Linked DNA regions of Homo sapiens. The protein of the gene in region 1 purifies or fractionates together with the protein of each later gene. This does not show direct contact. Each region holds a gene or a part of one and is shown on either strand. Other genes may lie near its edges. The genes, in order: RICTOR, KRT10 and CAD.

Evidence for each region.
Region 2: the proteins of RICTOR (region 1) and KRT10 purify together in Homo sapiens (affinity purification with mass spectrometry; 2 studies listed by BioGRID and IntAct, with this or other methods). This does not show direct contact.
Region 3: the proteins of RICTOR (region 1) and CAD purify together in Homo sapiens (affinity purification with mass spectrometry; 2 studies listed by BioGRID and IntAct, with this or other methods). This does not show direct contact.

Annotation. Positions count from the first base shown.
Region 1 is NC_000005.10:39,071,376-39,079,001, reverse strand, and holds the start of RICTOR (rapamycin-insensitive companion of mTOR), read left to right. Parts: upstream 1-4,602; 5' UTR 4,603-4,624; coding exon 4,625-4,673; intron 4,674-4,843; coding exon 4,844-4,891; intron 4,892-7,626. UniProt on the Homo sapiens protein: Component of the mechanistic target of rapamycin complex 2 (mTORC2), which transduces signals from growth factors to pathways involved in proliferation, cytoskeletal organization, lipogenesis and anabolic output.
Region 2 is NC_000017.11:40,819,517-40,827,003, forward strand, and holds the start of KRT10 (keratin, type I cytoskeletal 10), read right to left. Parts: upstream 3,099-7,487; 5' UTR 3,070-3,098; coding exon 2,443-3,069; intron 1,602-2,442; coding exon 1,519-1,601; intron 1,152-1,518; coding exon 995-1,151; intron 908-994; coding exon 746-907; intron 659-745; coding exon 533-658; intron 219-532; coding exon 1-218. UniProt on the Homo sapiens protein: Plays a role in the establishment of the epidermal barrier on plantar skin.
Region 3 is NC_000002.12:27,234,342-27,241,447, forward strand, and holds part of CAD (multifunctional protein CAD), read left to right. Parts: intron 1-176; coding exon 177-344; intron 345-903; coding exon 904-1,086; intron 1,087-1,194; coding exon 1,195-1,299; intron 1,300-1,942; coding exon 1,943-2,182; intron 2,183-2,407; coding exon 2,408-2,489; intron 2,490-3,037; coding exon 3,038-3,204; intron 3,205-3,376; coding exon 3,377-3,541; intron 3,542-3,714; coding exon 3,715-3,846; intron 3,847-4,089; coding exon 4,090-4,291; intron 4,292-4,700; coding exon 4,701-4,891; intron 4,892-4,989; coding exon 4,990-5,130; intron 5,131-5,355; coding exon 5,356-5,457; intron 5,458-5,923; coding exon 5,924-6,020; intron 6,021-6,225; coding exon of another isoform or gene 6,226-6,276; intron 6,277-6,569; coding exon 6,570-6,614; intron 6,615-6,716; coding exon 6,717-6,886; intron 6,887-6,980; coding exon 6,981-7,055; intron 7,056-7,106. UniProt on the Homo sapiens protein: Multifunctional protein that encodes the first 3 enzymatic activities of the de novo pyrimidine pathway: carbamoylphosphate synthetase (CPSase; EC 6.3.5.5), aspartate transcarbamylase (ATCase; EC 2.1.3.2) and dihydroorotase (DHOase; EC 3.5.2.3).

The DNA.
Region 1 (7,626 bases):
ACACACTTTGAAATGAGAGGTGAAGAAAATCTTTTGTATTATACAGGTGTTTACTATTTATTTAGTGGCAAGCTTTTTTTTCATGATGACTGGTGGCTTCGAGTAGCATGTTACCTATCAGATTTTTTAAAAAAAATTAAAAAAAAATTTCCCTTCAAGGTAGATGTGATAACAATAACTAAGAAATTTAATACTTCCAAAAAACCTGTGCTAGGATGAGAGCATTTAGAAAACAGATATTTGAAAGTGTTTCAGTTTTGTGATTTTTTTCTGAAAAAACTTAAAATATAAATGTGTCACATATATAAATTTTCATATCTGCACACTTGAAAATCATGGGAACAGAGTTTCCCAATCTGCTTCAAAATCTTTCAGATAAATGGTTTTGCAACCATTTTGCTGAAAATTTCTAAATGTTATGTCTTCTAGTTTGATAGGAAAACTGATTGACATTAGGCAAGATGAATATTTGTTAGCCAAATTACTAGTTTGATAGGAAAACTGATTGACATTAGGGAAGATGGATATTTGTTAGCCAAATTACATTTCAAAAAGCTTTTGTATCACTGGGTGGACGAAATGGGAAAATGAGTTTTATGGTTTAGAAATGCGGCCAATACAGTAGTTCTTCCATTTTTAACTTTGCATTTTGTGAGGTCTCAGCTATTAAAACCCTATACCCACATAAACTCTTCTTAGAACTAGACTTTTAAATTTCAGTATCACAAAGTATATAACAAGAAATGTCGAGAATAATGAAGTATATTCAGCCCCATTGCTTTGTATTCGTGTCATTAGTAAAATAACATTAAAAATTACTTTTAACCATTTTTATTTTGTGTTTATGTTTTAAGTTCTAATTTAATTTAAAAAGTGAATATATATGTATTGCAGTGTATGTGCAAAAGTTCTTTTTTTAATGAACAGATGCACAAATAATTTTGATTGTTTATAATGACCTGTTAAGTAAGTCATTATTATAATCAACTGTTTATAATTTTGGTTTAGAATAGCCAACAAAATTTTTCTAAAATAGTTTTCCTAAAAAAATTCATGAGTAAAAATTTGTTTGGGAACAAGTAAAATGAGAAAACGGGAGAGAAAAATCACTCCAAATTCTACCATCTGTAGATAATAACTGTTGAAATTTTACTGCATACCCTTCTAGATTTCATTTTTTAACATATCTTCATCTTCCATAAACATAGGTTTATTCTTCATTTAAAACTGTTAGTCATAGAGAGTCTCTTTAAAGAATTATTTAAAAGGAAATTTATATGAGATTTTGGGACAGAGATTAAAATTTAAAGACACAATACTCAGGGGCTCTGTTCTGCTGTGACCAAGACATAATTAACACTGGATGGGATTGTAACATTTGTTAAATTTAATTCATTGCTTGTCGTGTAAATGGCCTTTAGATGTCTCAAATGTGCGGTTTAACTATGAAGTTACCAAGAAATAGTCTGACCAAATTTTGTGGCTTTTTACTTGCTTTATCTTCAAATGGCCTATGTACCAAGGCAGAGAGATTAAAGGGAACTAAGATTTTGATAAGGCTTTTGTTTCTGTTCAGTATTACAACTGTATCCCAAACCGATAAAATATGGTTTACATACTAGAATTATTACTAGAATTCTAGTTATATACTAGAATTATTAACTGCATGCAGGAGGGTAGAGAATAGAACCAAGGGAGTGACTATGAATGGAGTAATTGTATCCTCAGAATTAAGCAGTTATCTTCCAAAGGTATGGTCCTGGACTCGATCTTCTTATAGAACATTTTTTATCAATGACTAATACTACCAGAAAAAAAAAAACAGTCACTGACACAGCAAATGAAACCTAGCTGGGAAACGAAAACTAAGAAGAGGAAGTCACATTCTCAATGACCAGATTAGAATCAAAATAAAAATTGGAGAAGTAGTAAGAAGTAAACAAAATGAGTAAGTCATATGGGTCGGCTAAAAGATGCAAGGAAGAAAAAGAAGTTTCAAAAGGAGGAATAGCTAGCAATTGGCAAGTATCAAAGAAGAAAATTTAGGGGTTTTAACAAGTATCAATCTGACTATAAACAATAAAGTAGTGCTACTGTTTAAAAAGCAAACACATTATAAAATGTATTCCTTACTAAAATTTATCTAAACTTCTGCTTCCTAGTTGAGTGTCACTTGCAAACACTAATAACTTGTTCCTTTTCACCAGACCTGCCATTCACTCTAAGAGCAAATATGGAGAACCTAACCACTCAAACGACTGAAATAGTAACAGAGAAAAAACTAGTTTCGATGAAAGATTGAATGTAATTTTTTCTCCTGCAAGAAATAGAGTAATTGAATAATTGTCTTTAATAGCATACAGTTATAATGATTAAAATACTACTGGATTTAGGCACTTATGTACCTCAAGTAACTTAAAAGTAGATTAGTTGTACTCAACTTTCATAAAACACCGAGAGAAAATGAAGTTAAATTGTATTAGGAAGGAGTTAATGTAGAATATAGAGGGATTTTATAATATGATAAAAGATTTGTTGAAAATCAGAACAACTGTAAGAATCTGGTATAATTTCTACTGATAGATCTCTACTTTTCTTTAAGGGTGAAATGTGGTGATACATGGAGGGTTGAAATCCAACCCTCTGCCAGACCTCAAGTTTTGTGATTTTTGTTTTAGGCAGTAACTAGAATAAATAAATTGCACCAAGATTTTTAAAGCTATAACGGAGGGAGCACGCTTGTTGACATTAAAACTACTACTGGTAATGCCAGAAGACATTTCTTTAAAGTACTGTAATTGTGTTACATCCTTAAATCTAAGTGCAGTATCAGCCGCAGATATCTGATTGTAGACTTGGTTTAAAAAAAAAAAAAGAACTGGAATATATAGATAATTGGCAATATTCTAAGGAAGCAGTGTTCCTATTTTATTTTCCAGATGATGCTACTTTATGTTCCTTTTATTTTTCTTCTTACCACTTATTTTACAAATGACATATATTAACTATAGGATATTTAAAAAGTAGAGACAAGCAAACAAGAACAAAAAAGTGCACGTGTAATTCCACAAATGAGGGGAGAAAATCAGCTAACATTTTCATGTATATTTTCAGACTTTTTTCAACATACATGTACATATAAAATATTTTATAATGTATATTTTTAATTTCGTACATATTTAAACTTTTATTATAAAACAGGAAATTTGTAATATTTTGCTTGATTTAATATCATGAACATTATTTCCTATTACTAAGTCTACCTCTTCACTTTTAATCGTTGACATAATTTACATAATCCCTACCTTTGGTCATTTAAGTGTTTCCAAATGTTCACTCTTATTAACAACTTCAACAAATATCCCCAATATTGCTTTTTTTTTCTTTTTTAAAGTAAGCAGAGAATTGGAATAAATTAGAAATCCAGGGCACTTACTCATCCAACAGATATTTATTGAATACTTATTTGTGCCAGATATTGCATTAACTGGGAGCTGGGAAAACAGAACTGGTTAAGGCTAGATCTCCACTTTTAATTAACTTTCAGTCTCATGGAATAGAAAGATGAGCTGAGGAACTGGAGAGGACAAATCGCTCCTCTCTTTAAAGTAAATGTAGTTCAAGAGAAAGCTGCTGGGTCAGTGGCCAGGTGTGTGTGTGTGTGTGTGTGTGTGTGTGTGTGTGTGTGTGTGTGTGTGTGTGTGTGTGTGTGTGTGTACACATACGTATTAACTAAGCAGTTTCTAGAATTAAAATCCCTAATGTTAATAGGCTTATGCATAAAATAGATTAATCCACAACACCTGCATGAGCCACGATCCTAGGAGCTGCAGAGCCATAAAAGCCGGACACAGTACCCAGCAGCCTCGCCTCGGCTCCCGGCAGAGAACACCCTCTCCCCGGCCTCCCGGCGCTGGCGCGATCCCACCGCGGGGACCGCCGCCCTGGTCCCCGGCCGCTGCACCCCCTTCTCGCGTCCTACGCCTGGCGGCCAAAAACAAAACTGCCTAACCACTTCCACTTGGAGAAGCCCTCCTAGCCGAGAGGGGCATTCTGAAGATCAAGGGCGAGGCTGGAAAACAAACTTTGTTACGTGTTAACTTAGTTGGAGCAAAGCGATTCCAGGAAAGGAGTCTAAAACTGTGCGCAGCGTTTTTATAAAAAAATGTTTCAGTGGATACACGGGGGAGCGGGGCCGTCTATGGCAGGGCTTCAGAGCAAGCAGGAGACTGGCAGGCCGGCGAGAGCAGGTGGCCCGCCGGCCGCATCCCGGCCTCCTCCTCCCCGCTCGCCTGCATTTGGACGACGGCTTCCGCGGCGGCCGGAGGGGAGCATCCTCTACACTGCCAACTCGCATCAATGGGACTTTCCTCGTGGGAACTGCCCCTCCCGGCGGACGTGCCCTCCGGGTCCGGCGTGGGCGGGCGGGTGCCGCGAACTCCTTGCAGACCTTGGGTCGGCTCAGTGCTCCCTCAGCGCTGGGGCCGAGCCTGCACCACCCGCCGCCGTCGCCGCCGAGGGGGCGGGGGAGGTGCCGCGGGGGGCGGGCGCGGCGCGCGGGGAGGGGAAGGGGTTCTCGCGCGATTGGGCGAGGTTTCCGGTGTTGTGACTGAAACCCGTCAATATGGCGGCGATCGGCCGCGGCCGCTCTCTGAAGAACCTCCGAGTACGAGGTAAGCCCGCTGCAACCCTCACTCCCCACCGCCCGGCGCCCGCCACCCCTGGCACTTGCCTTCCCCTGGCCCTGGGTTGGGGAGCGAGCCGGGGCGCTGGCCGGAGCCAGGGCAGCCGCAGCTGGCCTGCGAGCCAATCCTAATTGGGGCTGTGTGTCTGTTTCGCGCAGGGCGGAATGACAGCGGCGAGGAGAACGTCCCGCTGGATCTGACCCGAGGTAACGCGGGGCGCCGCGGGCGCCGCGAGGGCGCGCTGCTGGGGAGGAGCCGGGTCCGGGGCTGGGGGCCAGAGGCAGGGGCGGGCCCCGCACGGGACCGGCGGGGTGCGGGGGCCAGAGCCGGAGCCCCGCCTGCCGGCCCGCGGGAACCGAGCCCGGGGCCGCCTCGCCGGACCCATCCCCCTACCCAGCGCCCGCTTCCCTCGCCCGAGCCCTTCTCCGGGCCTCGGGCTGCTGCGGGTGCGGGGGAGCCCCGAGTGGAACTCGGCAGACCCGGCGACCCTCTGGGCTCGAGCTCCGGCAGAGTGGTTTGCACCTATCCCGGAGTCCGGCAGCCCAAGCTAGGGGCAGCTGGAGGGAGGTAGAGGCTGTTATTTAGGTTGCAGGAGGATGTTTGAGGGAAGAGCGACCACATCCTGCCCTCCCCGTCCCCGGAGCAGAAGCCGGACCTGCTCGGTGCTTGCCGACTGCGTGACTGCTTTCCCCTTTGCCCACCGTCCTGTGGGGACCCGCAGCATTGATAACTTGGTAGTGAAACCTAGAACTGGTCATTACTGCTAAATGTCTGGTTTATGCTGTTTCCCTTCTGCTTCCCTTTCCCGGGCCGCTGGGACTGTAGTTGGCTAAAGACCGCCCCCTCACCCTGCTGCAGGTTCATTGTTTACCTTCTGCAGTGGAGATGGGTTTGTTTACACCTTCCGAACTGGGGAAACTCGGGTGATATTTTTAATGACCTAATCCCGTTACTAGCCAGTGTTTCCTCTATCACTTACAGTACTAGAGTTTATTCGACATTATCTCGTTGAAGATTTAGTAGTTACGTACAAGATTCTTTTCTCTTCCACGGTAAACAGGATTGAGCCTACTGATTCCGACGAAGTCATATTTCACACGGGCTGTAGCTTGGAGTGTAACCCGGTTCAGCTGTACAGAATCAGTTTCTGAGGTCTATAAAACACCTTAGGAAGTAAACAAAAAAACTTGTTGTAGACATTCTGTATGAGATCAGTTTTTTACCCTATGTCGTACCTGACGTAATGACTGTTATCTACAGTAATTTGTTAAAGCTGGGCTCCTTGTTGACAACGGCTAGAGTGAAAGCATAGTGCATTTTCTAATTTGTTTTATTTTGCTTATCACGATGTAAGATTACTGTTTTATAAACTGAATGGTCAGCTTTCACTTAGCTACAAGAGTACATTTTTATAACTTAATATTTTATTCTGAAAGTTCAGGGACTTAGTTTTGGGTGAACTAGGTCCTTTTACAAGACAGTTTCTAAAATATAATACAATATAGTAGAGCTTAAATCCTGAAAATGGCTACTAATTAGATTATCAATGCACTAATTTCCACCATTTTTTTCAGCAGATCGGTTTTGAGAATTAGTATAGAAAGATGTAAAGCTTTTGACTTCTGTGCAACTGTTTGGAAACTTGACTATAACACACATGTGAAAAATCTATATAAAATAGATTCACTAGAAAACTTCCTAACAAGGATAACTTCTACAATTTCAGGTCTGTAAAAGATGTAATTAGTGAGTGATTTAATTTATATACAGGCATATGTGTTTTAGATGAAGGTGAAGGGAGCCCTTAATAAACTTGAGTTTAACTTGTGCATTAAAAACCTGCTCAGATGTGGTGCTGGAAATATATAGTTGTATTTTAAATTGAGTTCGTCGAGCTCCTATATATAGTGGTTTCTCTGCTTGGTGTCAAAAATGTTGAGTTGTGGAAGAGCTTAGGTACACATCTGATTTGATAATTTTGGCTTACTCCAGTTTTACTGAGGCACACAGGTAACTGTTTACTATTTAAAATGCCATATTAACTGAGAATTTAGTAAGCACCTATGTCCATAGGTATTTCCAGGTTAATATAGATAGTGCAGAAAATGCTGTTTTCGGCTTGCCCTGACAAAATGTACTTCAGTTTGGAATAAAGTATACACAGCCATTTAAAACTGATTGCAAAAATAAAGAGTGAGGGATTGTTTGAGATCTGTATTTCTAAATCATAAGGAAGTTTGGAATTAATCTGAATCAGTCATTTTATAGTGATACTATTGTTTTAAAAAGTTGCTGTTGTGACAGACATTTCATTGTTCAAAGAAGGCTTGAAGAAAATTCATGAGGAATTAAAGTTTAGTAATAATTTGAGAACTGTGAGGCAGTTTGGGTTGCAGCTGAAGGGCAGCTGTTTGTGGATTAGATTACAGTATGTAAAAAGATAAAGTTTGGGCAACCAAAAATTTTTTTGTTTAATGCCAAGGCAGTGTTTGCTTTTATTCTTATTTTTTAAATTTAATCTTTGAGAGATTCATTGTGTAGTTACCTAATAAAGCTCATTATAAAATAGAGGACATGGTCATTGTAATCCCTAAAGGATCCATCAATGTGTAGTGAAAAGAGAGTTGACTATAAAGTCAAATCATTCTGGATTGTAACCTCAGCTGTGAGATTTAATAGTTGGGTGATTTGGGGCAAGTTATTTGACCTTGCTTTACCCCTGATTTCTTCATTTCTAAAATAAGAGATAACTTCAAAGGGTTAAGAATGTGAAAAGTAAATGAGCTAGTTCTTAATTAAAGTACTTGGCATAAGACCGGATACTTTGTAAGTGATATTTAACATTAGTTGCCTTCCTACATTGTGAAATCACAGTTTTAAAACTCACATTAAAAATACTTTAAACGGTTGTTTTGAATATTATAAACTTGTTAATAAGGAA
Region 2 (7,487 bases), on another chromosome or scaffold:
CTTCCCTCTCCTTCTAGCAGGCTGCGGTAGGTTTGAATTTCATTCTCCAGTCGGATCTTAATATCCAGGAGTTGTTGGTATTCAGTATTCTGGCACTCGGTTTCAGCTCGAATCTGTTGCAACTGTTCTTCCAGAGCGGATATCTGGGCCTGAATCTGTGAGAGCTGCACACAGTAGCGACCTTCTGTTTCTGCCAAGGAGGCTTCCAGGGATTGTTTCTGAAACGGATTTTTTTGTGGCTTAGTGACTTCCTTGTTCAGTTGAGTATGGTGACGCTTATTTGATTATTTAGTAAGGCATTATATAGAAGAATAAGAAAATGAACAGAATTTGTTGTATGTTTAATGGCACCATTTCAGTTTCAGCACTTTTAGATCAACACTAGTAGTACTTTTCCTCCATTAACATGAGCTTCACTTTGTTTTCTCTTTCTTACCTCCAACTCTGCATTTTTTTGTTGCATTGCATATTCTTAGGTGAGCATGAAACTTTGTATGATAAAGTTGAAGTCATTTCATGAGAGTTAACATACCAAGGCCAGTTGGGACTGTAGTTCTATCTCCAGAGCTTGTACATTACGTCTCAATTCAGTAATCTCAGATTTATAGCTGGATATCTGTTCAATGTTATTATCAATTTCTGTAGTCAGTTCCTTGCTCTAGAGTATTAAAAACAAGGAAAAGGGTGAGGAAATTCTGAAATGATAAAACCTCCATGAGTTTCACTATAAGGAAGATTACTTTACCTTTTCATTGAACCAGGCTTCAGCATCTTTGCGGTTTTGTTCAGCAAGTTGTTCATATTGGCTTCTCATGTTATTCAGAAGTTGAGTCAGATCAACACCCGGGGCAGCATTCATTTCCACATTCACATCACCAGTGGACACATTTCGAAGGTCTTTCATTTCCTGTTTGAGGAACAGAAAGATTTATTGGCTACACGAGGACCATAATGAACTCTCTTTTGGCTGGGAAAAGTATAACTTTTGTGTCACCTCCTCGTGGTTCTTCTTCAGATAGGCCAGCTCTTCAGTCAGGCTCTCAATTTGCATCTCCAGGTCAGCCTTGGTCAGGGTCAGCTCATCCAGCACCCTACGCAGGCCGTTGATGTCAGCCTCCACGCTCTGGCGCAGAGCTACCTCATTCTCATACCTGAAACAAGCATGATATCAATACTGGTTATAACTTATATAGGGGAGATGTATCTGGGCAGAGACTATTTAAAAAGCAGCTACATAGTTGATCTCATGTAATGGCAATATTTGTCATGTACAGTTCTCTTAGAAGTAATAGTGGTTTAATGGAAAAAACCTTAGCAGTTACTTTAAAATGCATTTTCTTCCTTTAATATTGCCAAAAAGGTAACACTGACATGGAAAATTTCTCAGATAACTCCAATACTATTTAACTTTGGGTGAATTCAGAAAAATGTAAATGTTATTGAGGGCATCCCAAGTCATTGTTAAAAACCACTGATGTATTCGTTGTGATAGTATTATACAACGATCACTTAACTTACTTCAGCCTGAAGTCATCAGCTGCCAGCCTGGCATTGTCGATCTGAAGCAGGATGTTGGCATTATCAGTTGTTAGGTTGAGAATCTGGAGGGAGAGGCACAGTTATTTGAGAAGAGGTCAGATGCAGATATGGCTTTTGTAGTGACATAGATGCACTCTGCACTTTTATGTTGTTCTCTTACAAAATCTTGGGAAAATTTTTTATTTTAAATATGAAATATTGCAGGCTTACCCATATACTTAACTTTGAATTATTTGTTCTCTTGGAATTTCTCCAGTCTTGTATTTCTGTACACGAATTATTCCTTTCTGAAAACTAACTGGAATTATATAGATGTATTCCTGTAAGTGTGCCCTCCTCTTTTAGACTATGTGATTTCCATGTATTTCAGCCATGCTTTGGCTGACTCACACCTGCATTTGTTTAACTCATGATAAATACTAATAAATAAATACACTCTGAACTGGTACACAATAGGTACAATTCAGAAATTCCTTAGAGGCAAGCAGTGTCCCATTTTCATACTGGAAAATTTATTTTTCTTGCCATGTTGGTACTGAATATGGCTTGTTATCAGTCTGAATAACATTTTGTTCTGATTCATATCATGATTTTTTTTTTCAGTTTCTACATTTGTAAATAGCCTAGCATATTTTAACTGTGGACTCATTGTATGCTCATTAAAACCTCAAAAGTGCTTAGTAAATCTCCCATCCTCTTAAGACAAGTAGCACACTTGCTGGATGAAGATTGCCATGACCATAGTTTCACAGATGTTTATCTTTGATGAGACTGGGTTATTTTTGAAGGAAGAAAGTAACATGGGTAAGCATAGTGAACAGCCACATTGTGCTTAATTTAAGATTCATCTGTCTGGATTACATGGACAAGATACTTAAAGCTGGATTTAAAAATACCTCTTACCTGATTTTTAAGGTCATCGATGGTTTTGTAGTATTTGCTGTAGTCACGAGGCTCCCCCTGATGTGAGTTGCCATGCTTTTCATACCACTCCTTGATTTTGCCTTCCAGCTCATAGTTTGATTCTTCCAGAGCCCGAACTTTGTCCAAGTAGGAAGCCAGGCGGTCATTCAGATTCTGCATGGTTACTTTTTCATTTCCAGAGAGAAGGCCACCATCTCCTCCAAATCCACCACCAAAGCCTCCTCCAAAGCCGCCTCCACCAAAGCCGCCTCCACCAAAGCTGCCCCCACCAAAGCTGCCACCTCCGAAACTGCCCCCTCCAAAGATGCCTCCATAACTCCCACCAAAGCTGCTACTTCCATAGCTTCCACGAAAGCTACCTCCACCAAAACCTCCTAATCCTCCATAGCCACCTGATGAGCCCCCAAAGCAGCCCCCACCAGAGCTCCCACGGCTAAAAGAGCCACCACTGAACCCCCCTGAGCTAAATCCTCCACCAAGGGAGCCTTTGCTGCTAGAAATTCTTAGGGATGACACTCCTCCTCCTCCTCCACATCCTCCTCCTCCTCCTCCTCCTCCACTGCGGGAGGAAGAGTAGTGCTTGCTTGAGCTGTATCGAACAGACATGGTGATGCTGTTTAGCCCAGGGAGTGCCTGCTACCAAGGACAGTGACAAGCCTTTATATACTGAGAGGGTGTGTCCACATGTGTTAGAGTTTGCTTACTTACATTGTTTTCTTTTTGCCAACTTAGCATCTTTGGCTTATGATTGCATAAATTATCTTCAGTAATAACCAATCCTAATATGTACAATTTTGAATTTGCCCTAAGAATAAACAGGAGGTTTGCTATGTTGAAATTGAAAATGGGTGGAGTTCAGATGAGCATGTTTTATTATGCTTTTCACCTGTTGAAGAACATTGAGCAACCGTTAAGATCCATTTTTCTCAGCACTAATTCAGGTTGCATAGAATGTTTGCAAAGTTTAGAAAAAAAAGTTTCAGCTACAAAATTATAGTTAAAATAAGATTTTTCAAATTCATGTTTTAAACAGTTTTAATTGGAGCAACAAATAGCATAAAGTCTGGCAGGATCATGCTACAATAAGGTTCTTGTAGACAACTGTAGGGAATCAAAAAGAAAAAGTTTCTAAAAATTTAACTAGCATCAATAGTTGCCACACATAAAACATTAAAGCCATAAAACCACAATTTAGGAGATTGTGTTTGTAGGAGATCTTTTAATTTATTTGGCAAATGAGAGTATATTGATATTTTGCCTAAGAAAGTGGAAGTAATGATTTTAGAATTTTCTAATTAATGATGGCATTATTTTTAACATTAAAAAATCTGAAATCATAAAGTTATCCTGGATTATTTTGCACTTTTAAATTCATCATAGTTAAGGTTTCTGTGAAGACCATAATAATGCAGAAAATCTGCATTATTTTCTTAGCATGAAATCCGAAGAACTAACTTGTAGTACTTTACACTAAGTTCTGATTGAGTAAAAAGGGAAAATTTGGATATGTTATGATTGCAAGTAAAAATTTGCTTGCAAAAATGTAAATCTATATTAGAGAATGATACTTGCACCAAATATTATGAACTAGACTGTGCACATGTGTTCCCAAGCTAGGTTCAGTTTCTCAATAAAAACAACACATTTTCTTGGATATACTGTGTACAGAATTTGGTATAACAGTTTGTCTAGTGAAGTAAATTGGGATTTTGGTACATTGTATAAGATTATATCTACCCATAGGCTATGACATTGCTGTTGTTTGGATGTATATATTCATACATGTTTTACAATTATGTAGTGCTGTTTGTGATACTGTGCTTTAAAAATTTCTAGAACAAGCTGTTGAGATAGGAATGGTGGTTATTATTATTTCTTTTCTTTCTTTCTTTCTTTCTTTCTTTTTTTTTTTTTAGACGGAGGCTTGCTCTGTCGCCCAGGCTGGAGTGCAGTGGCGCCATCTCGGCTCACTGCAAGCTCCACCTCCCGGGTTCACGCCATTCTCCTGCCTCAGCCTCCCGAGTAGCTGGGGCTACAGGTGTGTGCCACCATACCTGGCTAATTTTTTGTCTTTTTGGTAGAGACAGGGTTTCATCATGTTAGCCAGGATGGTCTCAATCTCCTGACCTCTTGATCTGCCTGCCTTGGCCTCCCAAAGTGCTGGGGTTACAGGTGTGGTTATTGTTATTTCTAATTTATAGAAGAGGAAGTTGAAGTTGAGAGGTTGTGATTTTTTCCTGAAGATATGTAACAGGTGGTTGAACTGCAATTAGAAGCTTGGTCTTTTAACTCCTTGGTTCTTTTCCACTTTACCAATGTGTATATATATTATCTGCTCCAGTGGATTTGGTCTAATGGAGATGAATGACTCTAATTCTCACCGTAAACTTCTCCAAATGGGGAAAAAGAGCAAAACAAAAAGAACTTAGAATCATGAAAATATTCAAAGGGTAATGATTTGGCACACACTCTACCTTTAGTAATTGTTTTTTCAAATTAAGTTTATTGCTGCACATTTTGGTTTATGAAAACTACAGAAATAGTTTCTGTAGGGAAGGGAGTGTGGTTGGGAGCATTAATCAAATGTTGATTGTTAAAGTGGAGGTTACTACCCAGCAGATTGCAACTCTTCCAACTTGTTAGCACATGCAAATGGGGCAGTAGTTAAAAGAAAAACTGAAACCCAACCATGGGAATTGATTCTTGATGAAGATAACCTACAGTTAAAGAAGGCTATGATAAATCAGGATAGGAAAAGAAAAAACTCCAATAACTTCAGAGAACATGTTGAAACCTTGATATTAATGAAATCTTTTTGGAAAGAAACATTTTAATTAAAAAGATATTTTGATTGATTTTACCTGTAATTAGCACAAGTTTTGGATCTTAGTATTACCAATTTTGTTTTAGTATTAGCCTATAATTTCTCCCCCCAGTGGAAAATATAAAAATCCCAGTCTCCTTTCAGTTAATTAACAAGTGGTATGAAGAGAGCTCTGTTACAATCATATTAAACCAAAGAATATATGAAAGGGAATCTTTGCATAAAAGTACATAAGAACAAATACAGGTATGGAGGGCCTTCTAATACTATAACATTTAATTTAAGCTACCTTTACTGTTATTACCAAAGATTACTTATTAACTTGTATACTGTAGAAATTGATTTGTCTTTATTCACACTGTCATTTGTTGAAATCAGCCTTTGGCATGAGTAAAATTAAGAGATGCCACATAATAATTCTACAGCTAAATTGGATGAACATTTATGATTCTAGTCTTGGCACCATTTACACTTGATTGCTATAATCCACTGTAACTGTATTTTCATTGTGCTCAATTTTTATTGTGTCTCTATGTAAAGTGCATTGGTAGGTATTTAAAATATAGAAAAATGAATGAGATACACCTCCCGTCCTTATGGATCTTGCCAGTAGTTACAGTCTAATTGAGGAGACATGACATATACCATCAGTTTAAGCACTGTATGCTATATAAATGGAAAATGATGGTGGGGCTTGGATGTGTAGGGGGAAGGAGTTAACATTTCCGGAATATCTCTATGATCTAGATGGTTTACTTTTCTTTAATCCTGCCCTAGGTTCTCTAAGATAGGTATTATTATCTCGTTTAATAGCTAAAAAACCTAAACCTTAAAAAGTTTTAGAAATTTGCCAGATTATGTATGTATTTGTTTATTTATATATCAGCAGTGTCTGTGTGATGACACACAGCCTGGTTTTGAATCAAGAGATACAGTTACAAAGGTGCTAGTTTTCATGACACCAGACTGGCATTCTTAAGACTAATGAGCAAGGGGTCATGTTGGAATGGGGCCAATTGACAAAGTTTCATGGTGCAGTTGAAATTTAAGCTGAGTCCTGTAAGGATGAGTAGGACTTTTCATGTGTGCAACAGCAGAGAGAAGACTTCTGGGAAGTCAGGACTGTGAAAATGCCAAGCAAGTGGAGACACTGAGTGACCAGTTTGGCTGGAGTAGATCATCCGTATATGTTAATTTATTCATACCTTCAGCAGGTTTTATTGAGCACCTGCAATATGGCCTGGGGAAGGCATAGGTGACCAAGATACAGCTCCTACCCTTCAAGGAGTTTACAATCTACTTGGAGAGGCAAACAAACATACCCACGAATCAGAGATTATAATATAGGGTAATCTGGGCTATATTTGAGCAATGTTCAGGGTTCCGAGGAATTACAGAGAGGTTGTCTAACAGTCTAGTGAATGTGTGTGTGTGTGTGTGTGTGTGTGTGTGGTGTGAGTGCACAATGAAAGAATATTGAAGTAAAGTTCGGGATTGAGGATGAGTTTTGGTTTAAGACGTGAATTTGAGGTAATACCAGGATATTCATGTAAACATGTCTTTAAGCAATTATGGGACTGCTGTTAAGGAGAGAGATTCAGAATAGCAGATTTTGGGGGTAGTTAGGATCCCTAAGGGAAGGAATTTAGAGAGAAATGTACAGAAGGTCTAATTCTGAACTTTTGGAGTCACTTTAGGGGCTGGGAAGAAGAAGTAGAGCTAGAGAATAATCCTGAAAAGAAGGACATCTAGGACCAGGGAAAGGGGGAAAGAGGATCAGTGAAGCCAAGGGAGAAGAGAACGTGGGTGAGGTGATCATCCGAGAGGTCAATGAAAAGATGGATTGAGGAAAGTAATTTGGAACCATTGGCATCCTTCCAGAGGACAATTTTAATTGAGTAGTGGTGGGGCAATTCATGATGCATACCCAATATTGGAATTGATGACTTTGCTTATGGTATTTTATTTTCATGTTGTCCAGTTTATCAATTTCTTCTTTAATTGCTTCTGAACTTTGAGTCGTGGTTAAGACGGATATAGTTGCTATTCGCATGGGGTTAATTTGGCCGGAGCTCTAGAAGCATGTTGTGGATTCAAGTTTGTTATCAGTTTGACTTGTCTCACTGTTGGGATTTGGATCCTTTTTATTTCTTCCTTATTTTGCTTCAAGTAAAATCCGCTTTTGAAGTTTCTAGCTGAA
Region 3 (7,106 bases), on another chromosome or scaffold:
TGGAGGGAAAGGGCTGTAGCTAGAGCTCATGGTGTTGGGGCTTATGACAGTCAGTGACCCTGAACCCTGCTCAGTCTGATCCCCCAGAGCTGAGGACGGAGAGGAAGAGTCTAGGCCTATAGATAGTGTCAGCAAGGCCAACCTGCAGAAGGCCTGACCAGTCTTCTCTGCCCCAGGATGACCAGCTGAAAGTTATTGAATGCAACGTACGTGTCTCTCGCTCCTTCCCCTTCGTTTCCAAGACACTGGGTGTGGACCTAGTAGCCTTGGCCACGCGGGTCATCATGGGGGAAGAAGTGGAACCTGTGGGGCTAATGACTGGTTCTGGAGTCGTGGGAGTAAAGGTAAGGAATATCGAAACCCTTGGGGTTAGCAGAAAAATAGCGGGAGAGAGTTCACTCACCACACAGAGTTGTCAGTATGTAAACCAGGCACTGACTGCAAGGCATTGCCGGATCGTGGGGGTAATGAGGTGGTCATTGTCCCTTAAGAGCTTACTTTATGGTAATGGGAGGGAAGAGAAGTTGGATCCCCAAAAAAGCTTTGGTATAGAACAGTCCGTGGTAAAACTACATATTCGACCTGTAAACAGAATGCTGCAGGAGTTCAAGAGACAGGAGGTGCTGCTTCCAAAAGGGGTGATCTGGGAAGGCTTGAGCGAAGGGGTGCTATTTGAATTGAGTTTTGAAGGATGGTTAAGGTTTTTTATTTGCAAGGGCACATCCTAAGCAGAAGCTGAGGGATGACCCCAAGTACGTTTGGAAAGCAGGAGGGCACACAGAGAGGGCAGGCTGACCCTGCCATTCAGATGGGATCAAGCACAGGGTACTGTGTCCGTCTCTGCTGGTGAGGGAGGAGGTCCTCTCACACCTTGGCCCTCTCTCTTCCCTCCCGCCCCTTTAGGTGCCTCAGTTCTCCTTCTCCCGCTTGGCGGGTGCTGACGTGGTGTTGGGTGTGGAAATGACCAGTACTGGGGAGGTGGCCGGCTTTGGGGAGAGCCGCTGTGAGGCATACCTCAAGGCCATGCTAAGCACTGGCTTTAAGATCCCCAAGAAGAATATCCTGCTGACCATTGGCAGCTATAAGGTATCAGAATCCAGGAGGGCTTCCCGAGGGCCGTGGCTCCCTGGGCCAGGGCTGACCTTGAAATGGAAGACAGGAAGAAAACAATTTCATCCTTCTGTTTGGTTTCAGAACAAAAGCGAGCTGCTCCCAACTGTGCGGCTACTGGAGAGCCTGGGCTACAGCCTCTATGCCAGTCTCGGCACAGCTGACTTCTACACTGAGCATGGCGTCAAGGTGCAGGAACTCTGGCAACCTACCCCACTGCTGCCCTTCCCCAAGGGGGTGAAAATACTGCACCAAAGAATTATCTGGGCTGGGCACGGTGGCATATACCTGTAGTCCCAGATACTCAGGAGGCTAAGGCAGGAGAATCTCTTGAGCCCAGGAGGTAGAGGCTGCAGTGAGCTGCGAGTGTGCAGTGAGTGCACCACTGCACTCCAGCTTGGGAAACAGTGAGATGCTGTCTCAAAAAAAAAAAAAACAAAGAATTATCTCCTATTCCCCTGCTTTTATTATTACCATTATACTAGTAAGCTATATTCCATGCAGAAAGCAGAATACACAGGAAGCAAAGAGAAAAGTCTCTTAAAATCTCTGTACCACTGTTCTGATATTTTTCCTTCCAGGATTTTCTCTGTGTACATGTGTGTGAGCTCATACTGCACCTAGTCCTTGGTAACCCATCTTACTTAGTGTAGATATCTTTCCTGCCAAGAAATACACTTTGCCAGTATCAAATAGAGGCAGCCCTCAGTGCCCACCCTATGGGTCCTCAGTCTCCTCATCATGGGCTCCTGGGCCAGCTCCTCTCCCTTAAGGCTAGCCTTCCTGACCGCTGCCAGACAGCTTGGCCCTGACCTTGACTCCGGGTTGGCAGGTAACAGCTGTGGACTGGCACTTTGAGGAGGCTGTGGATGGTGAGTGCCCACCACAGCGGAGCATCCTGGAGCAGCTAGCTGAGAAAAACTTTGAGCTGGTGATTAACCTGTCAATGCGTGGAGCTGGGGGCCGGCGTCTCTCTTCCTTTGTCACCAAGGGCTACCGCACCCGACGCTTGGCCGCTGACTTCTCCGTGCCCCTAATCATCGATATCAAGTGCACCAAACTCTTTGTGGAGGTAACTGAGACCCATGTGCTGGGAGGGAGACTGCCAGTGTTGATGGGAAGAAGAAAGAGGGAGGAGTGAGTATGGAACAGCCATGCTAGTAATAAAGCTTTGTGGCTACAGAGGGAGAGATGGTGGGTATAGAGTGTGCAGAGCCTGGTTTATGGGAAAACCACATCTCTCCCTACAACTCCCAGGATCACCCTTCCCTTAAAGCTGACTGCTTTCCACTTGCAGGCCCTAGGCCAGATCGGGCCAGCCCCTCCTTTGAAGGTGCATGTTGACTGTATGACCTCCCAAAAGCTTGTGCGACTGCCGGGTAAGTCTTTGGGGAGAACTTGGCTTCTGAACACTGGCAGCCCCTGGCATAGAGACCTGCAGTGTGGTGAAGGATGGCTGGGGGGCCCACTCTTTGTCCTGGACTGCACAGACTGTGAAGACCCCAGAATGTTTCTCACTCTTTCATTCCTTAATCCACAGTGTCCACAGTGGCCTTGTCTGAGGAATTTTTTTTTTTTTTTTTTTTTTGAGACAGAGTCTTACTCCATCGCCCAGGTTGGAGTGCAGTGGTGTGTGATATCGGCTCACTGCAACCTCCGCCTCCCAGGTTCAAGCGATTTTCCTGCCTCAGCCTCCCAAGTAGCTGGGATTACAGGTGTGTGCTACCACACCAGGCTAATTTTTGTGTTTTTAGTAGAGACGGGGTTTCACCATGTTGGTCAGGTTGGTCTCGAACTCCTGATCTCAGGTGATCTGCCCACCTCGGCCTCCCAAAGTGCTAGGATTACAGGCGTGAGCCACCATGTCCAGCTCACCCTTCCTATTTCTGAATCTTCCTGTAATCTTGCTGCTTCCATTTTCTCCCAGGATTGATTGATGTCCATGTGCACCTGCGGGAACCAGGTGGGACACATAAGGAGGACTTTGCTTCAGGCACAGCCGCTGCCCTGGCTGGGGGTATCACCATGGTGTGTGCCATGCCTAATACCCGGCCCCCCATCATTGACGCCCCTGCTCTGGCCCTGGCCCAGAAGGTGAGCCACTGCACTCTTCCTGGTATTGGAGACCCATATGCCCCTACCAGCCACCCTTGCTTCCCTGAGCCCTTTTCCTTCTGCCCCGCCCTATGGGCCCAGGCCACTGGTGCCAGGCTAGCCTGTGTGGGCATGGGTGCCAGTGAGCCTTACCTCTGTGTATCCTCTCCAGCTGGCAGAGGCTGGCGCCCGGTGCGACTTTGCGCTATTCCTTGGGGCCTCGTCTGAAAATGCAGGAACCTTGGGCACCGTGGCCGGGTCTGCAGCCGGGCTGAAGCTTTACCTCAATGAGACCTTCTCTGAGCTGCGGCTGGACAGCGTGGTCCAGTGGATGGAGGTAGGGAGTGTGCATGTGGCAGGAGGCCACCACCCAGTGTCTCCTGGCTTGTGGGCCCCTGCCTAAGTGGGCTGGTAGCAGTGAGGATTCAGGGGAGCTCCTGGGGACTCTGGGCTCTGATGAGCACAGTCAGAGATTCTGCACACTCCTTCATCAGTTCTTTCTGCTCCCAGCATTTCGAGACATGGCCCTCCCACCTCCCCATTGTGGCTCACGCAGAGCAGCAAACCGTGGCTGCTGTCCTCATGGTGGCTCAGCTCACTCAGCGCTCAGTGCACATATGTCACGTGGCACGGAAGGAGGAGGTAAGAGTACACCTGAGATCCTGCTGTCCCTGTTGCTTTCCCAGTAACACCAAAGGTCAGGGTAGTCCTTAGGGGCAGGAGACAGCAGGAGGAGAGTCTGGAGACAGCAGGAGGAGGGTCTCGAGCCAGCACCCTTGCAGGTCTACATCATCATTTTTTGAGCAGGGATGTTGGCCATTGGGACTTTGTGTAGGGCAAGGCATATGGGTGGTGCCTCTTCTGGATCTTCCCATTGTTCCCCAGATCCTGCTAATTAAAGCTGCAAAGGCACGGGGCTTGCCAGTGACCTGCGAGGTGGCTCCCCACCACCTGTTCCTAAGCCATGATGACCTGGAGCGCCTGGGGCCTGGGAAGGGGGAGGTCCGGCCTGAGCTTGGCTCCCGCCAGGATGTGGAAGCCCTGTGGGAGAACATGGCTGTCATCGACTGCTTTGCCTCAGACCATGGTGAGAGAATCCAGCATGTACCTCCTCTGCCCAGTGGGGCTTGTGGGACAGCCCTAGCAAGAAAATGGGAAGCAGGCCAGGCCTCAGGACTCTACTAGGACAGGGTCTTGATCCGTATGGGACCCTAGCCTCTAGGGTACCTGGTCTGTGATAGGTGCCTGATAAATACTTGTTGAAAGAATGAATGAGCCAGTGAGTAGAACTGCAAGTGAAAGAATACATGGGTAAAAGTGTGGGCTCCAGAAGATGGCAGCAGTCCTGTTGCCCTTGTTTCTAGTTCCCAGAAAAAATGAGCATTGGGAGTGGTAGTGAGCATAAGGAGGTTGTTGGAAGTGCAGTCCTGGGGTGTGAGTGACTTCCTAGACATGGAGGTGATTGGTCCTGAGGGTAATGGCTTTCTTTCTCCCAGCTCCCCATACCTTGGAGGAGAAGTGTGGGTCCAGGCCCCCACCTGGGTTCCCAGGGTTAGAGACCATGCTGCCACTACTCCTGACGGCTGTAAGCGAGGGCCGGCTCAGCCTGGACGACCTGCTGCAGCGATTGCACCACAATCCTCGGCGCATCTTTCACCTGCCCCCGCAGGAGGACACCTATGTGGAGGTGTGGGGATGAGGCCCAGAGCAGGAGGGGGGCTCTCCAGCCCTAGGATATGTTCTCTGGGGATCCTTTCCCTAGCATAACCCATGTCCTCTGGGCAGGTGGATCTGGAGCATGAGTGGACAATTCCCAGCCACATGCCCTTCTCCAAGGCCCACTGGACACCTTTTGAAGGGCAGAAAGTGAAGGGCACCGTCCGCCGTGTGGTCCTGCGAGGGGAGGTTGCCTATATCGATGGGCAGGTACGCAAGTAGCCCCTGCCTGATCTCAGTAGTGCCCTCTTCTGCACCACGTTCATTTCTTCCCTTCCCAGCACATCTACACTGTCCCACTATGTGCACCACTGCCCTGGACCAGGGGTTGGGGGCACAGCTCCCCCAAGGTGCTTTTTGTCCTTGCTGACATCTACCCCTTTAGGACCTGAGTTCTCTCTGCTCCCTCCTGAGTGCCCTGCCTTCTGCCTGCAGGTTCTGGTACCCCCGGGCTATGGACAGGATGTACGGAAGTGGCCACAGGGGGCTGTTCCTCAGCTCCCACCCTCAGCCCCTGCCACTAGTGAGATGACCACGGTATCCACACTACTGGGCTAGGGGGCTGGGAGGTGTTAGTCTCAGGGCAGGATGAACAGCTTGAACATTTTCATTGGTGGTTCAGGAACAATTGGGGTTTTCTTGAGGGACTGAATTTGAAGTGGGGTTGGGTCAATTATTTTTTTAAAATGCTGGGCCAGGCCAGATGTGGTGGCTCACACTTGTAATCCCAGCACTTTGGGAGGCCAAGGCAGGCGGATCATCTGAGGTCAGGAGTTTAAGACCAGCCTAGCCAACATGGTGAAACCCCATCTCTACTAAAAATAAAAAAATTAGCCAGGCGTGGTGGTGCACATCTGTAATCCCAGCTACTTGGGAGGCTGAGGCAGGAGAATTGCTTGAACCCAGAAGGTCACGCCACTGCACTCCAGCCTGAGCGACAGAACGAGACTCCGTCTCAAAAGAAAAAAAAAAAAACAACTCTGGGCCAACGTTATCCCTCCAGACACCTGAAAGACCCCGCCGTGGCATCCCAGGGCTTCCTGATGGCCGCTTCCATCTGCCGCCCCGAATCCATCGAGCCTCCGACCCAGGTTTGCCAGGTAAGAGTGGGGTTCCTGTGACTCAGAGACTGTGTAGGGACAGGATCCACTTCTTCCCAGTGCCTCGCCTTTCTCTACTTACATGTCCTCCTCTCCATCCCTTTATCCTCGTCTGATCTGCCGTGCCATCCTTTGCCTAAACAAGTCTCCCCGGTGTGAGTAGACATCTCACAGCTTCTCACATGCCCTTTTTTGTTGTGGGCAGCTGTGTTCCTCCGCCCAGGAGCTGGGATCCCACGGGGCAGCAGAGCGTGGGGTAAATCCAGGTTGTTGGTTGGTGTGAGTCTGGCCGTTCCTCTTGCCTAGGATGCCTTTGCCAACTGGGAGAGCCCCGGGAGGGCACCACTGCTCCCATACAACACAGCCCCATGGGAAGCCACCTGTCTGTCCCCAGAGCTGCTGCAGTCCCCTGCCCTCCCCTAACCTGCTATATTACTGTGTTGTGAATTGGTTTAACATATACACTGTGATTCAGAGTTCCTGGGAATATGGGGTTTCTTTCCAAACCTCAGCCATAAATGTATATCTGTCCTCTTGTCCTGTTTGCAGCTGAGGAGCCAAAGGAGAAGTCCTCTCGGAAGGTAGCCGAGCCAGGTGAGACTCCACCCTGACACACACTCACCTCGGGGACCTCTGATCTGGCCTTGGTAGGAGGAACCCTCTGACCAGCCTTTTCTGCCCCATCCCTCACTGCAGAGCTGATGGGAACCCCTGATGGCACCTGCTACCCTCCACCACCAGTACCGAGACAGGCATCTCCCCAGAACCTGGGGACCCCTGGCTTGCTGCACCCCCAGACCTCACCCCTGCTGCACTCATTAGTGGGCCAACATATCCTGTCCGTCCAGCAGTTCACCAAGGATCAGGTGCCTGGGGCAGGGAGGATGGGACCACCCAGAGCTTTGAGGATTTGGAAAGCTGGGGCTAGGACCTTTCTAGCTAACTTGGGCTCTTTCTTAGATGTCTCACCTGTTCAATGTGGCACACACACTGCGTATGATGGTGCAGAAGGAGCGGAGCCTCGACATCCTGAAGGTCAGGATCAGGGCCGGGGGTAGGGTCCAGGCCATCGCCTGCCCTTGGGCC